Regions from separate parts of the Homo sapiens genome. Here all the other regions are linked to region 2. Evidence: fine-mapped expression QTL. A gene starts in region 2. Each other region holds a variant in brackets. All regions are shown on one strand. Distances are between the middles of the regions. Region 1 overlaps KLHL22 (kelch like family member 22). Region 2 holds the start of MED15 (mediator complex subunit 15). Region 3 overlaps MED15 (mediator complex subunit 15).

Region 1 (7,577 bases), 50 kb before region 2:
TCATGGAGTGAAATTCTTGTTTTATGGGTATTGGGAGTGTGGGAATGTGATAACCTAAACAACCTTTGCTCTGAAATTCCATTTTTCCCTCTTTCCCTGAAGTGTACTGACCTGTACTACAGAGTTAATTTCTTTTGTATTTTTTTAAGAAAATATTAAAAATCAATGGTCTCAAAAAAAAAAGATTTTCTTCTTCTTTTTTTCTAGAAGTTTTATGGTTTTACATTTAACTCCATAAACCATTTTGAATTCATTTTGGTATATGGTATGAGACTTGGGTTGATATCCATTTTTTTGCCGACGCATGTCTAATTGCTCCAGTACTATTTGCTGAAAGATATCTTTCCTCCACTCAATTGTTTCTGCACCTTTGTCCAAAATCATGTGTAACATGACTGGGCATATTTACTCAGGTCTGTGGGTTTTCCATTCTGTTTCACTGATCTATGTGTCTATCACTGTATCCATACCACAGCCTTGATTACTGTAGCTATGTAGTAATCTTGAAATTGGGCAGACTCCTCCCATCTTATCGTTCTTTTTCAAAATTATTTGAGCTATTCTAGTTCCTTTGCCTTTATATATACATTTCAGAATAATCTCATTTACATCTAATGTCACAAGTAAAATCAAATCAAAATTAAAAAATTTATTTTATTTATTTTGAAATTTATTTTATTATTATTTTTTGAGACAGTCTCACTCTGTCGCCCAGGCTGGAGTGCAGTGGCGCAATCTCGGCTCATTGCAACCTCTGCCTCCTGGGTTCAATCCATTCTTGTGCCTCAGCCTCCCCAGTAGCTGGGATTACAGGTGTGTGCCACCACACCCAGCTAATATTTGTATTTTTAGTAGAGATGGGGTTTCACCATGTTGGCCAGGCTGGTCTTGAACTCCTGACCTCAAGCGATACACCATCCTCGGCCTCCCAAAGTGCTGGGATTACAGACGTGAGCCACTGCGACCAGCAATAAAAAAAAATTTTAGGCTGGATGTGATGGCTCACTTCTCTAATCCCTGCACTTTGGCCGAGGCAGACAGATCCCTTGAGACCAGGGGTTCAAGAACAGCCTGGGCAATATGGTGAAACCTTCATGATACTAAAAATATAAATATTAGCTGGGCATGGTGGTGCTCACCTGTAATCCCAGCTACTTGGGAGGCTGAGGCAGGAGGATCACTTGAACCAGGGAGGCAGAGGTTGCAGTGAGCCGGGGTCATGCCACTGCACTCCAGCCTGGGTGACAGAGCGAGACTCTGTCTCAAAAAAAATAAAAATAAAAAAATTTTTAAAAAGCTTATTGTGCATGTAAAAGAAGAGTTCATGAACCAGGAAACCCCAAACTGGAAGTGGTATGAAGCCCCAATTCACAGCAGTTACAACACAGTTTATAAAGCATGAATGAGGAAGAATATTGTTCCCTACTGTGCATGTGGAGCTGCATAAGCTTTCTTTGTAAAGCTATCACACTGAGGGAGGAAAGCTTAAGTTTCAGTTACATGGCTACAGGCAGTTGGCCTAGGGGTATATCCAAACCTCAGCTTCAATTTTCATTTTCCCTTAATAGTACAAAAAACCTTCCTGAAATTTTGATAGGAATACTAGTATTCCTGTATTAATACTATATCAATATGAGGAATTCTGTATTAATATATGTATTATTAATTGGGTTGGGAAAGAACTGACATTCTTACTATTCTTACTCTTCCAATCCATGGACTTGGTATGTCTCTCCATCTATTCACATCTTCTTTTATTTCTTTCATCGGCTTTTTGTAATATTCAGTGTACCAATCCTGTGAGGTTTTTTGTTTGTTTGTTTTGAGACGGAGTCTTGGCAGAGTCTTGCTCTGTTGCCCAGGCTGGAATGCAGTGGTGTGATCTCAGCTCACTACAACCTCTGCCTCCCGGGTTCACGCCATTCTCCTGCCTCAGCCTCCTGAGTAGCTGGGACTATAGGCGCCTGCCACCATGCTCAGCTAATTTTTGTATTTTTAGTAGAGATGGGGTTTTACCATGTTGGCCAGGCTGGTCTTGAACTCCTGACCTCAGGTGATCCCCCCCGCCTGGGCCTCCCAAAGTGCTGGGATTACAGACGTGAGCCACCGCGCCCTGCCAACATGACCTATCCTTTTTCATTCCCCAACATCTGATCCATCAGCAAGCCTGATCAGTTTACCTCCACGCTACACTCTGAACCCTCCCATCTCCCTCCAGCTCCACAGCTGTGTGCCAGCACAGGCTACTGCTGTCTTCAGCCCAGACCACGCAATGACCCAGGGCCAGCCTCGCTTGCTCTGCTCTTGATCCTTGGGCTTCCTTCTTCTACAAGCATGCCCCATGCTTCCTCTCCTGCTCAGGAAAAGCTGTGAGCCCCTCTCCTGCCCTGGAAGGTCCTTCTGCTAGACTAGGCAGATGGTTAGATATGAGCAGGGAAGTGGACTCCAGGTTGGCCTCAGCCCCTAGCATGGCCAGAGGGACTATGACCTCTGAGACATGTTAACCACACCTGGGGTTTCAAAAGTCCCAACCCCTCTTTCAGTTAAGCTTATCCAGCTCAAGTAGGAACTAACCCCACAAGGAACTTTCCACCCCCGGGAGCCTGTGTTGTATAGTTTGCCCCAGTTTTGCTTGCTTCGAAAGTAACCTTTTGTTCACTGCAGTGGTAAAAAACACACCTCCTGGGTGAAGATTTAAGATGCTAATGAGACATGCGATAAATACACTAGCACGTAGAGCCACAGTGCATGCGCTGCTAGAAGACCACCCAAACAAAACATGCTTATGAGTAACACCTCTTCCCGCCCATTTATGAATAATCATGTAAGCCTCCTGTAAGGGAGGTTTCCCATGCCAGTTGGGGCGATCTTATTCTGGAGCAGCCTGCTCTGACTCGGCCTTCAGAATGTACCTTCACTTTTGCAATAAACTGCCTTACACTTATCTTCGTTAATGCATGTCTCTTGCTTAAAGTCTTAACCAAGAAGACAAGAACCGAGGACACATTCCCAGTAACATTTCCTCCCTCTGTAAATGGCAGGTCTAATTGACATCTCCTCAGATGGACATTCCCCAAAAAGTCCCTCTAGATTCATCCTACCAGAGCCCCCTCCCTGGAAATCCTCCAGTTCAGCCCCCTCTTCATTTCACTTACCATAATTGTAACCACTTTACTGATCTGTTTTCTGGTTAAGAGTGGTTTCTCCTACAAGGCTGTAAACACCATGGAGTGGGGAGTCTTTCTCATTTCTTGTCACCACTGGATTCCCAGGACTTGGTACATGGTGCTTAGTAGTTGCGGAATGAATGCGTGCATGAAGGAACACCGGCAGCCACGATGCAGCTGGTTGAAAGCCAAGGCTGCCCCTCTGTGGCCAAGCTGGAGAACTGCTGCTTCCCCAGCTGCCGCAGACAAAGAAACTGCTAAGCCCCTCCCACAACACCCACCTAGGAGGCTTCCCCCAACACCCTTCCTGGAACAGAACCCAAGAGCCCTCCTTGTCCACTTGGTCTCAAGGACCTCCTGATCTTCTCCATGCAAAATCTGCTCCTTTCCCCAGGATGGGGGTACGGAGTGTCCTTCCAAAGAGGCTTCCTTCTCCCCAAAGAAGCTGAGAGCAAGGAGCAGGCCACAGCTTGCAGCTCACAGCTGCCCAAGAGACAGAAATCTGTGTGGGCTGTGTGAATGACCTGGATAAAGAAGAGCTGGATCCATTGAGGAGACACTAGCCCTGACCCCTGAAGTCAAAGTC[T/A]AAGTCCCTGGGGGAATTGGGGGTCATGAGAGATACTGGAAAGAGGCTTACAAAGGCCAGAGCTCTTGCTAAACTCCCTGAGGCAGTGCAGGTAGAACCTGCCCCCCATACCATCCTCTGCCTCTCAGGTGCTCGGTTATCCCCAAAGGTGTACCTGGCCCATAGCAGGTGCTCCACAAATGCTATGCCAGTACTAGCGGGGTGCCCTGCTAGGGTACCCCTAGTACTGCTAGGGTATGCCCTGTTCTCGGAGGCTGAGACCCAGGAAGTAGGGGGCCAGCAAGGCCTGTTCCTTCCCTGGGATCCCATGTCTGGTTGTTACACCAGGCCTGAGTACCCCAAAGTCGTAAGATAAAAGAGAGGCACCTCCCTAAAACATCATTTTTCCATAATGAACATAATTTTAAACATCTTCAAATTGGAATAAACCAAGGTATTATATAGGATGCACGTGATTTTTTTTTCAAGTTGTCCCAATATTCAAACATAGGATTTAATATAAAAAATAAAACCTTAGAGTGTTTCTTGGCTCTGGAAGGCGCCACCCTTCAGGGGACCTAGAGGGAAGAGGTCTGAGGATAGGCCAGTGAGCTCTCAGGGTCCCTTCCTGTTTAACATCTCTGGAAGTGTCCCAGCTCGTCTCAGCTGCACAAAGAGCAAATGTTCTATCCACATTTGAACTACAAGGTTTAAGCAGCTTGCCAGGGCCAAGGTGGTGTGACAAGGTCTCAGCATGTAAGACTCACAAGTGGGGCACAATTCTGAGCAATGGGGTCTGGATCCTTGATGAGCCTCCCCAGGTGGACTGGCTGAACCTCATGGGGCCTCATCAATGCATTCAATGCAGGGTCTCTGGAGAAGCATGGATTCTGCTCACTGAGCCTGTTTCTCTGACCTGGGACAGGCCTTGACACCTAGGCCTCTCACTCTTTGCACATCCTGGGGAAGGAAATTAGGCAGGAGAAGGCCCCTCTTCGAGGGCTTCCTTACCTCCCTCTTGAGTGGGGCCACGTATGCCCAGGAGTTGGTGGCAGGGTCGTAGCGCTCCACAGCATTCAGGTCATTGTGGTAGTCACGGCCCGCCACAGCGTAGATGTACCTGCCTACAACACACACGGACAGGTCGGCGTGCTCCTGCTGCAGGGACTGGATCTGGAACCAGCGGTTGTGCCGTGGGTCATACCTGTGCCGAGACATGAGGAAAGCACAGCACTGACTAGGCAGGGAGGCTGCTCCGCAGGCTTGCACCTCTTGTTCTGGTCCCATTTCTGCTTTGCCTCAGCCCAGCCTGAACCCTCCCCAACTACCCCACATACCAGTGCACACCGATCTACAGCCAGGCCCACAGGCTGTTACACACCTGAGCACAGGTGCTCCCCACCACACAGCATGGAAGGAATGGCCAGGAGCCTCCTGTGTTTCCACCTAACTGTCCACCTGGGCTGTCCAATGGCTCTTTTTTTTTTTTTTTTTTTTTTTTTGTGGAGAGAGGTCTCTCTGTCCCCTAGGCTGAAGTGCAGTGGCACAATCATGGCTCACTGTAGCCTCGACCTCCTGGGCTTAAGTGATCCTACCACCTCAGTCTCCTAAGTAGCTGGGACTACAGGTGCGCACCACAACGCCCGCTATTTTTTTTTTTTTTTTTTTTTTTGATAGAGACAAGGTCTTGACACCTGGGATATGGACTTAGGCAATCCTCCTGCCTCAGCCTCAATGGCTGTTCGTACAGCCACTTCCATCTCACTTACCTCATCTCATCATCCACATAGCCTTGCTCCCACTCAGGAGGGCCTCCAAATACAGCCTCTCCACTGGATGGGTGCCATCAGCCCCCTCATTGGCCTCCAAGCCTTGAACTTCCCCCAGCACTCCATCAGGAGTGGTCTTCTCAGGCACGCCCTGCACACAGCACCCATCATACCCTCAGCTTTGTCAACAGCCGCACACACAAGGCTCTGGTCATCGTACTTTCACCTCCTCCCACCATGCTGCCAGCCCCGCGTTTCCTGACCTCCCCTCCACTCAAGGTCTCCCTCTCTGGGAAAGTGGAAAGGGTTAACTCCCACCCTGGACTGCAGGCTCTGTAAGGGCAGGGTGTGTGAGATTCCAGGGACCCCCATGGGAGAAAAGGCACTAGACTGGTTGCGGCAGGCCCACGAGGGTGGAGGAGTCTGGCCAGGACCCAAGGAGGGCTCCTGGGCTGAGCACCAACAGGGAGCATGGCCTGCAATGTGGAGCAGAGATGATCACAGAGCCATGAGGGGCCAGGACCCAGTGAGCTCAAAGCCAGTATCTGAAGTGTCCTTGCCCAACAGCCCACAGATAGTTACAGCCTCTTTCAGACAAGTGTTTTTATTTCTGCAGAGGAAGACCTATTCCAAAGAGAACAAGTCTAACTTCAACTGGCTCACAAGAGAGTAACCAAAGTTTTCTTTGGCCTGTGCCCTATGCTGGTTAGTGAAAAGATCAGTTTCATCCTTTGCTTCCTGCAGCCCCTGCAGTGTGGCCAGCCCCTCCCCGCCGCCTACCAGGAATGCAGCAAACAGGAGCCTCAGAAGGCAGGGCCAACAAGAGAGGGAACACACACCTGGGTCTCCCTGACCTGGTGTGAATCCTGGGCTCTTCCCTGTCTAGCTGGGTGTGCCTGGGCATCAGTTTTAATCTCTTGGGATTCGCTCAGTTCTGCACCTGTCCAATGAGGTGATATCACCTGCCTAGAAAAGCTATCAAGAAGAATCATAAAAGACGAGCATGAAAAGTGTCCTTGTTAACTTGGGGGTTCTGATGGATCATGGTTCATTTCTATATTCCTAGACCTCAGTGTAGCCTCTGGCTCAGGACAGATTATGTTCTGTCTGCTGAATGAATTAAACAAAGGAGTAAGATTACCAGCAATGAATCATTCATTCACTCTACCAACATTCCCAGGTCTCCCACTGTGGATGGGGCACAGTGCTCAGCACTACATCCAGAGGGAGCCTCAAGAGGTCAGGGCCCTGCCTTCCCCTGCAGAATGGAAACAGGCTAACCAGAGCAAATGAGTGCTTAATATAATGACAGACACTGTGAAAGAAAGAAAGGGAGGTAAGAAGATGAGTGACCTGCTGGTCAGCGGGGCCTGGGGAGGGCAGAGCTCCCTTGCAGTGATCAGGAAAGGCCTCCTGAGAAGGCAGGGTCTGAGACCTGCATGACCTGGGGCACAAGCCAGAAGAAGGTCTGGCAGGGGACCAGCAGTCCAGGATTGGGGCACAGCACTCACAGGGGCCCCGTCAACTGGCTGGGATGGTGCTGTTCACTGCCTTTCCTGTGCGCCTTCCTCCTTTATATACAAGTCTCTCCTCTCTTGTGTTCAGTCTGGCTCAATCACCATCTGCACCCCAAGTGTCTGCAACCAGAGTGAGATAGGACCCTCCATGTGCTCCTGTTTGCTCCTTCGAGTCTATTGTCCTCACAGCTTTTTAAGCTGAGTTCATGTGGATTTGTGGCTTCAAATTTAAAGACACACACAGGGCCGGGCGTGGTGGCTCACGCCTGTAATCCCAGAACTTTGGGAGGCTGAGGCGGGTGGATCACGAGGTCAGGAGTTCAAGACCAGACTGTCCAATATGGTGAAACCCCGTCTCCACTAAAAATATAAAAAAATTAGCCAGGCATGGTGGTGTGTGGCTGTAGTTCCAGCTACTCGGGAGGCTGAGGCAGGAGAATCACTTGAACCCGGGAGGCAGAAGTTGCAGTGAGCTGAGATCATGCCATTGCACTCCAGCCTGGGCGACAGAGTGAAACTCCATCCCCCAAAAAAAAAAAAAAAAAAAAAAAAAAAAAAA
Region 2 (7,125 bases):
TAATCCCAGCTACTTGGGAGGCTGGGGCAGGAGAATCGCTTGAACCTGGGAGGTGGAGGTTGCAGTGAGCCGAGATCGTGCCACTGCACTCCAGCCTGGGAGACAGTGCGAGACTCCATCTCAAAAAAAAAAAAAAAAATTGGGCACGGTGGTACAAGCCTGTAATCCCAGCTACTTGGGAGTCTGAGGCAGGAGAATTGCTTCAACCTGGGAGGCGGAGGTTGCAATGAGCCAAGATCGTGCTGCTGCACTCCAGCCCAGGCAACAGAGTGAGACTTTGTCTCAAAAAAAAAATGAATTGCATGGCTTGGCGCGGTGGCCCATGCCTGTAATCCAGCACTTTGGGAGACTGAGGCAGGTGGATATTTGAGGTCAGGAGTTCGAGACCAGCCTAGCCAACATGGTGAAACCCCATCTCTACTAAAAATACAAAAAATTAGCCAAGTATGGTGGCGTGCGCCTGTAATCCCAGTTACCTGGGAGGCTGAGGCAGAATTGCTTGAACCCAGGAGCTGGAGGTTGCAATGAGCCAAGATTGCACCACTGCACTCCAGCCTGGGCAACAGAGTGAGACTCCATCTCAAAAAAAAAAAAAAAAGAAACAATAACCACTCCCTCCCTACCTCCACATACATAAGTGATTACAGGCTCCAGGCCAAACACACAGAGGAGTTACATCTGGCTGGTGCTAGGATGGAAGGTGGGGCAGGTCACCACCTCCCAGGGACTGAGTGCCAAAGCAAGGAGGAAGATTGGAGGTGAGGCTGTATGGAGACAGCCACAGGCTCACAGAGCTTGTGCTGAGCTCTCTAGGGGGAAGCTTGATCTGCCTGGGAAGCTTCCAGCTCCTACCTCCTGCAGAGCCCAGAATGGTGTCCAGGAAATATGTGGCCATTGAGTGGAACCAGCCTTGGCATGGTAGCCTGCAGGAACCCGCAGGCTAGAGACATGGCCACATGAGCAGTGAGGATCTCCCCCGAGATGAGGATCCCCAGAACATAGTGTGGGATGCAGGTCTGGCCTCTGCATACCCTCGGCTTCCTCCATCACTTATTCTCAGACATCTAAACCACTAACATCCAGACTGGGGATCCCAGGAGGGTCTACAGTGTCAAGAGAGGGCAAGTCCACTTCAGGATCAACCTTCCTGTGGCCCCTTACTTTCCTTGGTCCACCTTTCCAGGTCACCCATCCAGACTGTCACCAGGGATCACTGCCCTGGGCACCAACCCAATGCGGGGACAAGTAGAAAAAGAGCTCTGGGGAAAATACCAAAGGGAATAGTCACTCAATTTTACTGTGATGATAAACTCCTGGCAAAGTTCCAGGCCTCTCTCTGTCTGTGTCTGTGAATTATGTGTCTGTGTCTCCATCAACCATAGTGCAGAAGGGGGAGGGTTGTCCTAAGTATCCTATTAACATGTTTGTTTGTTTGTTTGTTTGAGACAGAGTTTCGCTCTTGTTGCCCAGGCTGCAGTGCAATGGCATAATCTCAGCTCACTGCAACCTCCACCTCCTGGGTTCAAGTGATTCTCGTGCCTCAGCCTCCTGAGTAGCTGGGATTACAGGCACACACCACCATGCCTGGCTACTTTTGTATTTTTAGTAGAGACGGGGTTTCACTATGTTGGCCAAGCTGGTCTCGAACTCCTGACCTCAGGTGATCCACCTGCCTCAGCTTCCCAAAGTGCTGGGATTATAGGCGTGAGCCACCATGCCCAGCCAGAACACAGGACTTTCAAAACTTAAACCTGGGGCTGGGCACGGTGGCTCACACCTGTAATCCCAGCACTTTGGGAGGCCGAGGCAGGCGGATCACCTGTCAGGAGTTCAAGACCAGCCTGGGCAACATGGTGAAACCCCATCTTTACTAAAAATAAAATAAAATAAAATACAAAAATGAGTCGGGCGTGGTGGCGCACTGTAGTCCCAGCTACTGGGGAGGCTGAGGCACGAGAATCACTTGAACCCCGGATGGCGGGGACTGCAGTAAGCGATCACGCCACTGCACTCAAGCCTGGCAGACCTAGCGAGACTCTGTCTCAAAAAAAAAGAAAACAAGGCTGGGCGTGGTGGCTCACGCCTGTAATCCCAACACTTTGGGAGGCCAAGGCGGGTGGATCGCCAGGTCAGGAGATTGAGAACATCCTGGCCAACATGGTGAAACCCTGTCTCCACCAAAAATACAAAAATTAGCCAGATGTGGTGCCAGGTGCTTGTAGTCCCAGCTACTCAGGAGGCTGAGGCAGGAGAATCACTTGAACCTGAGAGGCGGAGGATGCAGTGAGCTGAGATTGCGCCACTGCACTCCAGCTTGGGCGACAGAGTGAGACTCTGTCTCAAAAAAAAAAAAAAAAAAAAAAAAAAAAAAACCAAGGGCCGGGCGCGGTGGCTCACGCCTGTAATCCCAGCAATTTGGGAGGCCGAGGCAGGCGGATCATGAGGTCAGGAGATCGAGACCATCCTGGCTAACACGGTGAAACCCTGTCTCTACTAAAAATACAAAAAAATTAGCTGGGCGTGGTGGCGGGCGCCTGTAGTCCCAGCTACTTGGGAGGCTGAGGCAGGAGAATGGCGTGAACCCGGGAGGCGGAGCTTGCAGTGAGCCAAGATTGTGCCACTGCACTCCAGCCTGGGCAACAGAGCAAGACTCCATCTCAAAAAACAAACAAACAAACAACAACAACAAAATAAAACAAGGAAAAAAACACTAAAACCTTGGATGTCCTGGGCAACCCCGGTCAAGATGATCACTCTAGATAGAGTTTTTAAAAATTAGTTTTCAGCCTGGCCAAGATGGTGAAACCCTGTCTCTACTAAGGATACAAAAAATTAGCTGGGCTTCGTAGCAGGCACCTGTAATCCCAGCTACTTGGGAGGCTGAGGCAGGAGAATCACTTGAACCCGGGAGGCAGAGGTTGCAGTGAGCCGAGATGTCACCACAGCACTCCAGTCTGGGCAACAGGGCGAGACTCCATCTCAAAAAAAAAAAATTAGTTTTGCCACCGGGCACGGTGGCTCATGCCTGTAATCCCAGCACTTTGGGAGGCCGAGGTAGGTGGATCACCTGAGGTCAGGAGTTCGAGACCAGCCTGGCCAACGTGGTGAAACCCTGTCTCTACTAAAAATACAAAAATTAGCCAGGCATGGTGGGGTACGCTTGTAATCCCAGCTACTGGGGAAGCTGAGGTGGGAGAATTGCGTGAACCCGGGAGACAGAGGTTGCAGTGAGCCGAGATGGCACCACTGCACTCCAGCCTGGCCAACAAGGGCTAAATTCTATCCCCCCCCCCTCAAAAAAAACAATAACGATTTTGGGAGTATTAGAGCAGAAAACGTTTGAAAACATGAACAGCTCTCACATCAACACAAGACATGAAACTCTGTTGGCAAGAGAGGCCTCTTTGGGGAGAGTGCTCACTCCTCTCCCACCCACTCTCTACCACCTTCAACCTCCTGTCTGGGGCACAGTAACAAGGGGTGTAAGGGGTGTACAGTGCCTAGCAGGGGCCTGGCACTTAGGCTTCAGTAGGTGCCAGTCCACAGTCTCCTGAGGCCCATGTTGGTTGGTGTCCACCTGGTGCTTATTGACCACTTGGGCTCCAGATTTTCCTCACGTCACCTCCCTCCCCAGGGTAGCAGATAAAGGCCCCATAGTTCCAAGGAGGCAGAACTTTTACATTCCTAAAAGCATTCTCAGGCCCCCATAACCCCTCATCCCACCTTCAGCTCGCTCACCTTCACCTATCAAATTCGTTTGACATCTGGCCTCCAGCAACTAGCTAGGCTGAGTTCTCCATGAAGGGGACGTGGCTGCTGGTCAAAAGGGAAAGCCCATGTCTAAAAATTAATTAACGTGGTTTAGGGGCCTCACATTCCCAACCCCCAAATACAGCCATTGTGAGATGTGAGATTCAAAAAATCGAAGAGTGAAGCGGTGATGAGAGTCCATCTGGTCGCTCTTCGGATGCGGCGCTAGCAGGCAGTTGCATGAAAGCAGATCCCAGATCACGTTGCACTGGCACACAGTAGGTACCCACACATATTTGATAAATAAACACTCTCTCCCTAGCATTACTATAGATAGCTGGCAGCTTGGCCTGGCATCCCGGAGGGGTCTGGATCTCAGGGACTAGATAAGGCCAGCACACTGAAGAGTTGCAGAAAATGCAGGCGGTCAGGCGCAGGTCTGCTGCGGGAGCACCTGCCGTGTCCGACAGCTGCACTGGAAGAGGGGCGTGTGTCTCCCAGCCGGGCGGAACCGAGACCGCTTCGTCCCCGGCGGGGAACTTCATTTCCCACAAGCCTGTGCGCGAGACTCCATTTCCCACAAGCCCTCCTTCACTTCCGGCTCGGCCGAGGCACTGCGGACGGCTTCCGGGTTTGGGCCTGGCTCTGTGACTGAGGCGGCGGCGGTGGCGGCCAAGCGGGATACGGGCGGCGGGAGCTGGGGAACAGGCATGGACGTTTCCGGGCAAGAGACCGACTGGCGGAGCACCGCCTTCCGGCAGAAGCTGGTCAGTCAAATGTGAGTAGTGGTCGGGGCAGGGGGCTGGATTGTGGGACCTTCCTCCTTAGCGTGGCGGGCGAGGCCAGGGCCGGACCCGTGAGAAACCTACGGCGCCGGGAGACAGAAGGCGCCGGGGACTTGCGTGGGTCCCAGGGCTCGGGCCCCCCCGTCTGTCCCCTCCGTTCCCGACATGGACTGCTCGTTTGCTTTCCTGGGGCCGAGCTCTGCAAACCAACGAGCCCTGGCTTATGAATCATCGTCTTGAGCTTTCTCATTCGTCATTTGTGTGCTTTGGGTGCAGACTTTCCCCCGCTTTTTGAACCACACTGAATAGGGAAAGGGAGAGAAGCAGCCGGCTGTAGTGGGTTTAGCAGGGCTGGGTGCTTCATGGTTTCTCTTCCAGAAAAGCGCATCAACGGTGAAAGAAAGTGATGGGAGGAGGGTGGATGTAAGATGAGATTGGGAAGGTAGTTGTTTGGGGTGTGGGCGGTGGGACGGAGGATCTGAGGGTGACCCCCCGAAGGAATGTGGACTTTGCCGAAGGATGGCAGGAAGCCGCTGTCAGGAAGCGATCGTCGTTTCTGGAGGAGAGCGTGAAGAGCTGGGGTCAGTGGCCCCGCTCAGAGGAACTCTAGCCCCTCACCACCGACTGCTTGTTTCTGTTAGCAGTTTTTTTCATGCGCGTCCGTGTGAAGAGACCACCAAACAGGCTTTGTGTGAGCAATAAAGCTGTTTATTTCACCTGGGTGCAGGTGGGCTGAGTCCGAAAAGAGAGTCAGCGAAGGGAGATAGGGGTGGGGTCGTTTTATAGGATTTGGGAAGGTAATGGAAAATTAGTCAATTGTTCTCTGGTGGGCAGGGATGGATCTCACAAAGTACATTCTCAAGGGTGGGGAGAATTACAAAGAACCTTCTTAAGGGTGGGGGAGATTACAAAGTACATTGATCAGTTAGGGTGGGGCAGGAACAAATCACAATGGTGGAATGTCATCAGTTACGGCTGTTTTTACTTCTTTTGTGGATCTTCAGTTACTTCAGGCCATCTGGATGTATACGTGCAAGTCACAGGGGATGCGATGGCCTGGCCTGGGCTCAGAGGCCTGACAGTTTTTAACTGAGCTTATTGGCGTGTTGTGCTCGCCACAGATTTGCCTGAGACACAGCCCCTTTCCTGAGGGATGGTAAAGGAACCGTCACAGCGCAGTCTTGTCAGTCTGTAATGTGTATACTGCAGGGGTTTCTTGCGAAGCGGCGGTTAACTTGAGCAGACCAGGGGCAGTCTAGTGAGTAGGTGACGAATAAATTGAGTCCTAGAAAGACAAGTAGGAGTGTGAATAGCCACCATTCCAAGCTGAGGAGTTAGGAAACATGAGCATTTACTGCGTGGAGGGAGGATCTTGTAGGCTGAGAGTTCTGGGGCTCGAGGAGTAAGAGAGCCCAGGAGATGATGGAATGAGGGTGAGCAGGTACTAGCACTTTAGTGGGGGTGTTGTGCCAAGGAATTGAGCCTGTGTTTGGCATGTGGCATTCTTTGGAGTAGTGAAATGCCAGTGTTGGGAATATGCCTAGAGTCCCTGTCCCTGGAGATGGATGCAGGGCAGAGAAGAGAGACCAGTTAAGCTATTAAGAGAGTTTGAACATTTGGAGGGAGTAGGGAACCTGTCCTTTTTCATCCTTATATTCTCACTGCTAGCTCACTGCCTGCCACATTGCTCCGTAAAATGATTGTGGCATGACCTAGTCGGGCGGGAGATTATAAAGGCCTGCATTAGACAGTGGTAGAAACTGAAAGAGGAAGACAGATTCCAGAGGAGGGGGAACGTAGACAATTCTTGATGACTAACTGGATGGAGGGGGGTGGGGTGTGGGGTGAAGCATTGTGGAAGGAAGGAAGCCGGGCTGAATGCTGGGAAACCTTTCAGTACAGTGGAAAGAGTAGGGACTGTAGAGTTAGTAGCTATGGGCTTTGGGAAGAATAGCCTTGGGATATTTCTGGGGATATTGCACAATCAGTGAACAGTGTTTTACTGATAAAATATAGTTATCTGTAGGTGAAAACTTGAGAGATATCCCACTTCAGGGTTCCTGCAAGAAAAGTCCCCAGGGCAAGGGTTCTTCTCTGGGAAAGCCCAGAATTAAGAACTGGAAGGGTGAGTTGTCATCAAAGAAAATGGGGGTAGGGGAAGTGTTAAGAGGGCTGGGAGGGTGATTGAAGAGTTTATGGGTGTTGAGTGACTGGATACTTCATAACTCAGCTTTATTTTGCTTCCGGGAGAATTGAGTTCTTTATTTTTTTCGATATTGCTGTTTGTGTGTTTTTCTGTTGCCGCTCTAACAAATTACCACAAGTTTAGCATCTTAAAACAACACACCTTTAGCCAGGTGTGGTGGCTCACGCCTGTAATCCCAGCACTTTGGGAGACTGAGGCAGGCGGATCACGAGGTCAAGAGACTGAGACCCATCCTGGCCAACACGGTGAAACCCTATCTCTACTAAAAATCCAAAAATTAGCTGGGTGTGATGGCGCACACCTGTAGTCCCAGCTACTCAAGAGTCTGAGGCAGGAGAATTGCTTGAACCCGGGAGGCGGAGGTTGCAGTGAGCCGAGATCGCA
Region 3 (5,000 bases), 28 kb after region 2:
GCCGACAGCAGGGGTGCCTGGGTGGAAGCAGGGTGGGAGGCCCTAACAGGCCTGATGGGATAGTCAGGCAATGTGCCAGGTAGTAGGTCATCATCCCTGGGGCCCTGGGGAGAGTGTGTGGGGCAGGCGCAGGAGCAGGCTCCTCAGTGGGCTCCTGGACAGGCTGCCTGCTCTGCTGGTGAGGAGCGAGGCTCAAAGCAAGCAGGGGCCTGGGTTGCTTCCCACACTCAGTGGCAGTTGCTCACTGGCAGTCATGTGACCTGGGGAGCTGGCGAGGGCGTGGGGGTAGGAATGGGAACGGGAGACAGAGGCCCTTTGGGAGGAATTGCCACAGATGCAGTGGGAGTTGGGGCAAAGATTTGAACTTTGGAGAATTAAAGGTGGCAGTCAGAAAGTGAAGGGAGTTCCCAAGTTTCTGGGATGGGCACTTGGTGCTGGGAGATGAAGACACGAAGAGCTTTTCTTGATGTATCCCTGCTGGCTGCTCAGGCAGGGTCGGGCAATGCCATTAAGACACACTGTGTTCTGGGAACAGTTCTGGACAGTAAGGACATCCTCAGACCCCTTAGTGGGGGAGCTCCAAGGGCCTGTAATGATGAATCGGTCCCCTGGGAGGCTTCAGTCTAAGCTAGATACCAGTTGAACCCTGACTGAGTACACAGACATAGCTATGGCAACCAGCTAGACCATGGCCAAAGGCAGAGCATTGGAGCCCAGTTCACAGCAAGGGACTGTGTGCTCTGAGCCGGTAACAGTCCTTGTGTTCAGAGGTCTGGCTGGTCGCAACCAGGGAGTGGCCCCCAGCCCCCTTCCTCAGCTAGAGCGAGCACCACCCAGGCAGCCTTGGGTTCTTTGGTGGCCGCCTCATAGGCCTGTACTGTTTGTGAACCTGTTGCTTATGTTGGACAGGACTGTGGCAGGACAGCCATCAAGGGTCTTCCCTTGTGAGCTGACACCAGTCTGCTCTTTGTCCTCCTCTGGCTGGACAGGCCCTCGTCTTCCCGGCTTGCTTGTGTGGGGGAAGAGCTCACTGTGACATGTGGGTTCTCTGTTCTTTGTCTCAGGCTGTGCTCCTTACTCCATGTTGGGGGCTGTCTCCTTGTGTGATAGTTTCCTTTCATTTCGTGACAGTGGCTCGAAGGGTTTTGTTTTCAGGAGACAGAGACTGAGGAGTAGCCATTCGGGTCTGGCTGCTCAGGAAGGCATGCTGGGGATGGCAGCAGAGCCCAGCTCAGGGAGATCAGAAGGGGGCTTTGGGAGCAGCCAGTGCTGTTCTGAAGGTGGGCCTGGGTCCTGCCTGCAGCCTCCCGCAGCGGGTGTGTTAGGTCTAAGGGAGGAAGGAAGGGGACTTGACCTCAGCAGGAGTGTGAAATGGGTACCCTCCTGGAGTCAATGTCCAGGCAGGGGATGCCTCTGAAAAGCGCCAGGCCAGCTGGAGAGGAAAGGGCAGGCATCTGCAGGGAAGTGTGGGGGATTAGCTGCAGAGTTCCTGGGTTCTTTTTCGCTTTGTCTCTATTTTGTGACACTTGATCTTCAAACTAGAAACAGGAGCAAAGACATTTTCAAAAATACAGTTGTCAGAACTGCAAAACCACACAGGGTCTGTTACTGGCCACCAAACCTGCTGGGCCTCCCTGGGTGGATGCTGTGGGAGAGATGTGGGAGTGACATGGCACAGTGCTGCTGTTCTGAGCGGTAGCCTTGCTGGAGGAGCGCCTTGCCGGAGGAGCACCTTGCTCCTTGGCCCCACTCTGACCCTCCGAAGCTCATGTGGAACTGGACATTTACCCCAACTCGGTTTCCTGGTGTTGGCCTGTCAAGACTTGCCTGTTTCTGGCCTCCAGCTTGGTCCATGCTCCTCAGGCTCTGAGTAGCTGACGGTGCCCACAGTGTCCATGTCATCTGTGACATTACCCAGGACAGGACAGGGCCCGTCTGCCAGTACATCCCCTGGTGTATGGTGCCACCTTGCCTTCAGCTCACCAAGCATATTTCTTCAACCTGGTCATCCCACCACCTCAGAGCTATTGCACTAAGCTGTGTTTCTAGATCTTGTCTCTCTGACTGTGCCAGGTGTCTCTGCTGCACCAAGACAGTGTCTGTCTGGGGCCTGCCAGTCTGCTGACACTCTCAAAAACGGCCAGTAGCAGCTCAAAAGGACTGCTTTTGTATCAAAGCCTGGCTTTGCTCTCTGATCGCTGCTGGTGGGCACAGAGCCCATCTGTGTAACTGGTTGTCACTCCCCAGACTCTTCTGCACCCTTCTTCCTCTCTGACTCCTGGCCACATCTGCCACCCACAGCCTCCCCACTCCTTACACAGCCAGCCTCCAGGCCGTCCTGCTTGGCCTGCAAATGCTCCCCTGCTGTTTCTACTGCTCTTCCCTGAGTCTCCCTATTGGTCCCAGTGCTTTGGGAGGCCAAGGTGGAGGATCACTTAAGGCCAGGAGTTTGAGACCAGCCTGGGCAACAAAGCAAGACCCTGTCTCTACAAAAAAAGTAAAAAATAAAAAAATTAGCCAGGCGTGGTGGCGCATGCCTGTAGTCCCAGCTATTTGGGAGGCTGAGGTGAGAGGATACTTGAGCCCAGGAGTTTGAAGCTGCAGTGAGCTGTGTTTGCCCCACTGCGCTGCACCTGTGAGAGAGTGAGACATTGTCTCAAAAAACAAAAGAAGAAAAAGAAAAAAGGAAGGTGGGAAGAACAAGTATGCCTTTGAAGGGCATACCTGCCTTGAGGGGCACAGATGAGGCAACCTTCAGAAAACAGGCCTGTGCAGCCACTTCTATCAGAAATGCTCACTGACTTCTTGGGGCCTAGCAGCTATCGTCTCAGCCTCTGGGTGTGGAGACCCTGCCCCATGCTAACCTGAGAGCATGAGTACAGGGTCCTCCCAGCCCACCCATGCCTCGCTTCCCCAGGACTCTGACCCAGTGCCGCGCGTGAGTTGGTTGTCAT[T/C]ATCCTCCTGGATTGTTAACTCTCTCATCTTTTGTGGCCCTGGTGACCTTTCTTACTTGTCTGTTCCACACCTGGATGCCTTGTGAGCAGAAACCCCTTGCTGCCTCCTCGCCTCCCTTCAGGCTTCAGGAAGCAGACAGGGAGGTAGGAACTCCAAGAGTGCAGGAGTCTCATTCTGTCGCCCAGGCTGGAGTGCAGTAGTGCCATCTTGGCTCACTGCAACCTCTGCCTCCAGGGTTCAAGCGATTCTCCTGCCTCAGCCTCCCGAGTAGCTGGGACCACAGGTGCCTGCCACCACACCCGACTAATTTTTGTATTTTTAGTGGAGACAGGGTTTCACCACGTTAGCCAGGCTGGTCTCAAACTCCTGACCTCAGGTGATCCACCTGCCTCGGCCTCCCAAAGTGCTGGGATTACAGACCTGAGCCATCGTGCCCAGCCCAAGAGTGCTTTTTGAATCTAGCAGGGTGGTAGGTCAATGTCATTTTGTTTTTCTTTTTACATTAAGACAGATGTATGCACCTCTCAGCATTAAACCTCCTTTCTGTGATGTCTTTAAGAATCACAGTCATATTGCTGTAGCCCCGTCTGTACATTCCTTCAGTTTCCTGAGGTTGGCTGGTTGCTGTTTGGAGTGGTCAGAATGCTTTCTAGCACGAGCTGGACTGGGCCTATTCAATTCACTCAGAGGCAAGGCCCCAGAGCCCTGACATGTTTGCTTGTTTCTTTTTTCTTTTGCTTTCTTTCTTTTTTTTTTTTTTGAGACGGAGTCTCGCACTGTTGCCCAGGCTGAAGTGCAGTGGCGCAATCTCCGCTCACTGCCAGCTCCGCCTCCCGGGTTCATGCCATTCTCCTGCCTCAGCCTCCCGAGTAGCTGGGACTACAGGCGCCTGCCACCATGCCCAGCTAATTTTTTGTATTTTTAGTAGAGACAGGGTTTCACTGTGTTAGCCAGGATGGTCGTGCTCGCCTGACCTCGTGATCTGCCCGCCTTGGCCTCCCAAAGTGCTGGGACTACAGGCGTGAGCCACCGTGCTCAGCCTGCTTCTTTCTTTCTTTTTTTTTTTTTTTTTTTTTTTGAGATGGAGTTTCGCTCTGTCACCCAGGCTGGAGTGCAGTGGCGCAATCTCGGCTCACTGCAACCTCCACCTCCCGGTTCAAGCGATTCTCCTGCCTCAGCCTCCTTTGTAGCTGAGATTACAGGCATGCGCAACCACACCCTGCTAATTTTGTATTTTTAGTAGAGACAGGGTTTCACCATGTTGGTCAGGTTGGTCTTGAACTCCTGACCTCAGATGATCCACCCGCCTCGGCCTCCCAAAGTGTTGGGATTACAGGCGTGTGGCACTGCACCTGGCCACTTGTTTCTTTATCAGCAAGCCCAGGGTGGGAGGCCAGGCAAGGAAGAGACCCATCCCACTGGCAAGAAGGCAGGCAGTGAGCACACCAGAGCAGTCCACCCCTGGGAGCCACAGGCCAGGCCTTTCTAACAGATTCACACTTGTTTTTGTCTTTCTGTGTGTGAGTGTGGGAGGTGGGGGTGGGGGTGGGTGGGGCAGCATGTGCTGCATTCGAGGGGTCTCCACCTTAACTGATGTACATGGCTCTTTATCCCCGTGGAGCAGCAGTGTGATGAAAAACTCTTCATAGGATTCTATCTCTTAGTACAAAATTGTTGGTAAATGGGTTTTTAAAGATATTTTTCACATTTATGTGGTCTTTCTCTTCTTGTCTCTAGCTAGAAGTGAAGTTGGAGCTTGTCTCTTTGATCCCACATATAGGACCTGCATTGTCCCACATAGGGACAGACCCTTGCCTTGGGAGGGACTGAGAGATGACTTCATGTGGCCCCTTCATTTTATAGGAGTAATCGAGTCTAGAACCAGGGTGCTACCATCTGGCAGAGTTCATGGGGAACGCAGGCCACTCAGAGAGCAGGAAATAGAGGCCAGCTGGCCACCCAGTAGTCTAATGCGTACTTCCTTGATCCTGAACTGGTTGTGAGCCATCCCTAGGGGCAACCCCTCCCCCGCCCCGTCCCTTCAT

Evidence for each region.
Region 1: its variant is fine-mapped to the expression of MED15 in whole blood (TOPMed, PIP 0.98).
Region 3: its variant is fine-mapped to the expression of MED15 in blood mononuclear cells (TOPMed, PIP above 0.99). The same link has a PIP of 0.9 or more in thyroid.

The regions. Positions count from the first base shown.
Region 1 is chr22:20,453,065-20,460,641 of GRCh38, forward strand. It overlaps KLHL22 (kelch like family member 22), which reads right to left. Exons shown (of 7, transcript NM_032775.4): 5 at 4,744-4,936. It also overlaps the pseudogene KLHL12P1. Among named protein-coding and RNA genes, the nearest start is that of SCARF2, 19 kb to the left of the region's middle. RefSeq lists enhancers at 2,282-2,451, 3,200-3,701 and a silencer at 6,666-6,864. The variant T/A (reference allele first, on the strand shown) is at 3,754.
Region 2 is chr22:20,503,219-20,510,343 of GRCh38, forward strand. It overlaps MED15 (mediator complex subunit 15), which reads left to right and starts at 4,392. Exons shown (of 18, transcript NM_001003891.3): 1 at 4,392-4,528. The coding sequence starts at 4,461. RefSeq lists enhancers at 1,996-2,495, 4,375-4,484.
Region 3 is chr22:20,531,863-20,536,862 of GRCh38, forward strand. The region is part of intron 1 of MED15 (mediator complex subunit 15); the gene reads left to right. Among named protein-coding and RNA genes, the nearest start is that of MED15, 27 kb to the left of the region's middle. The variant T/C (reference allele first, on the strand shown) is at 2,955.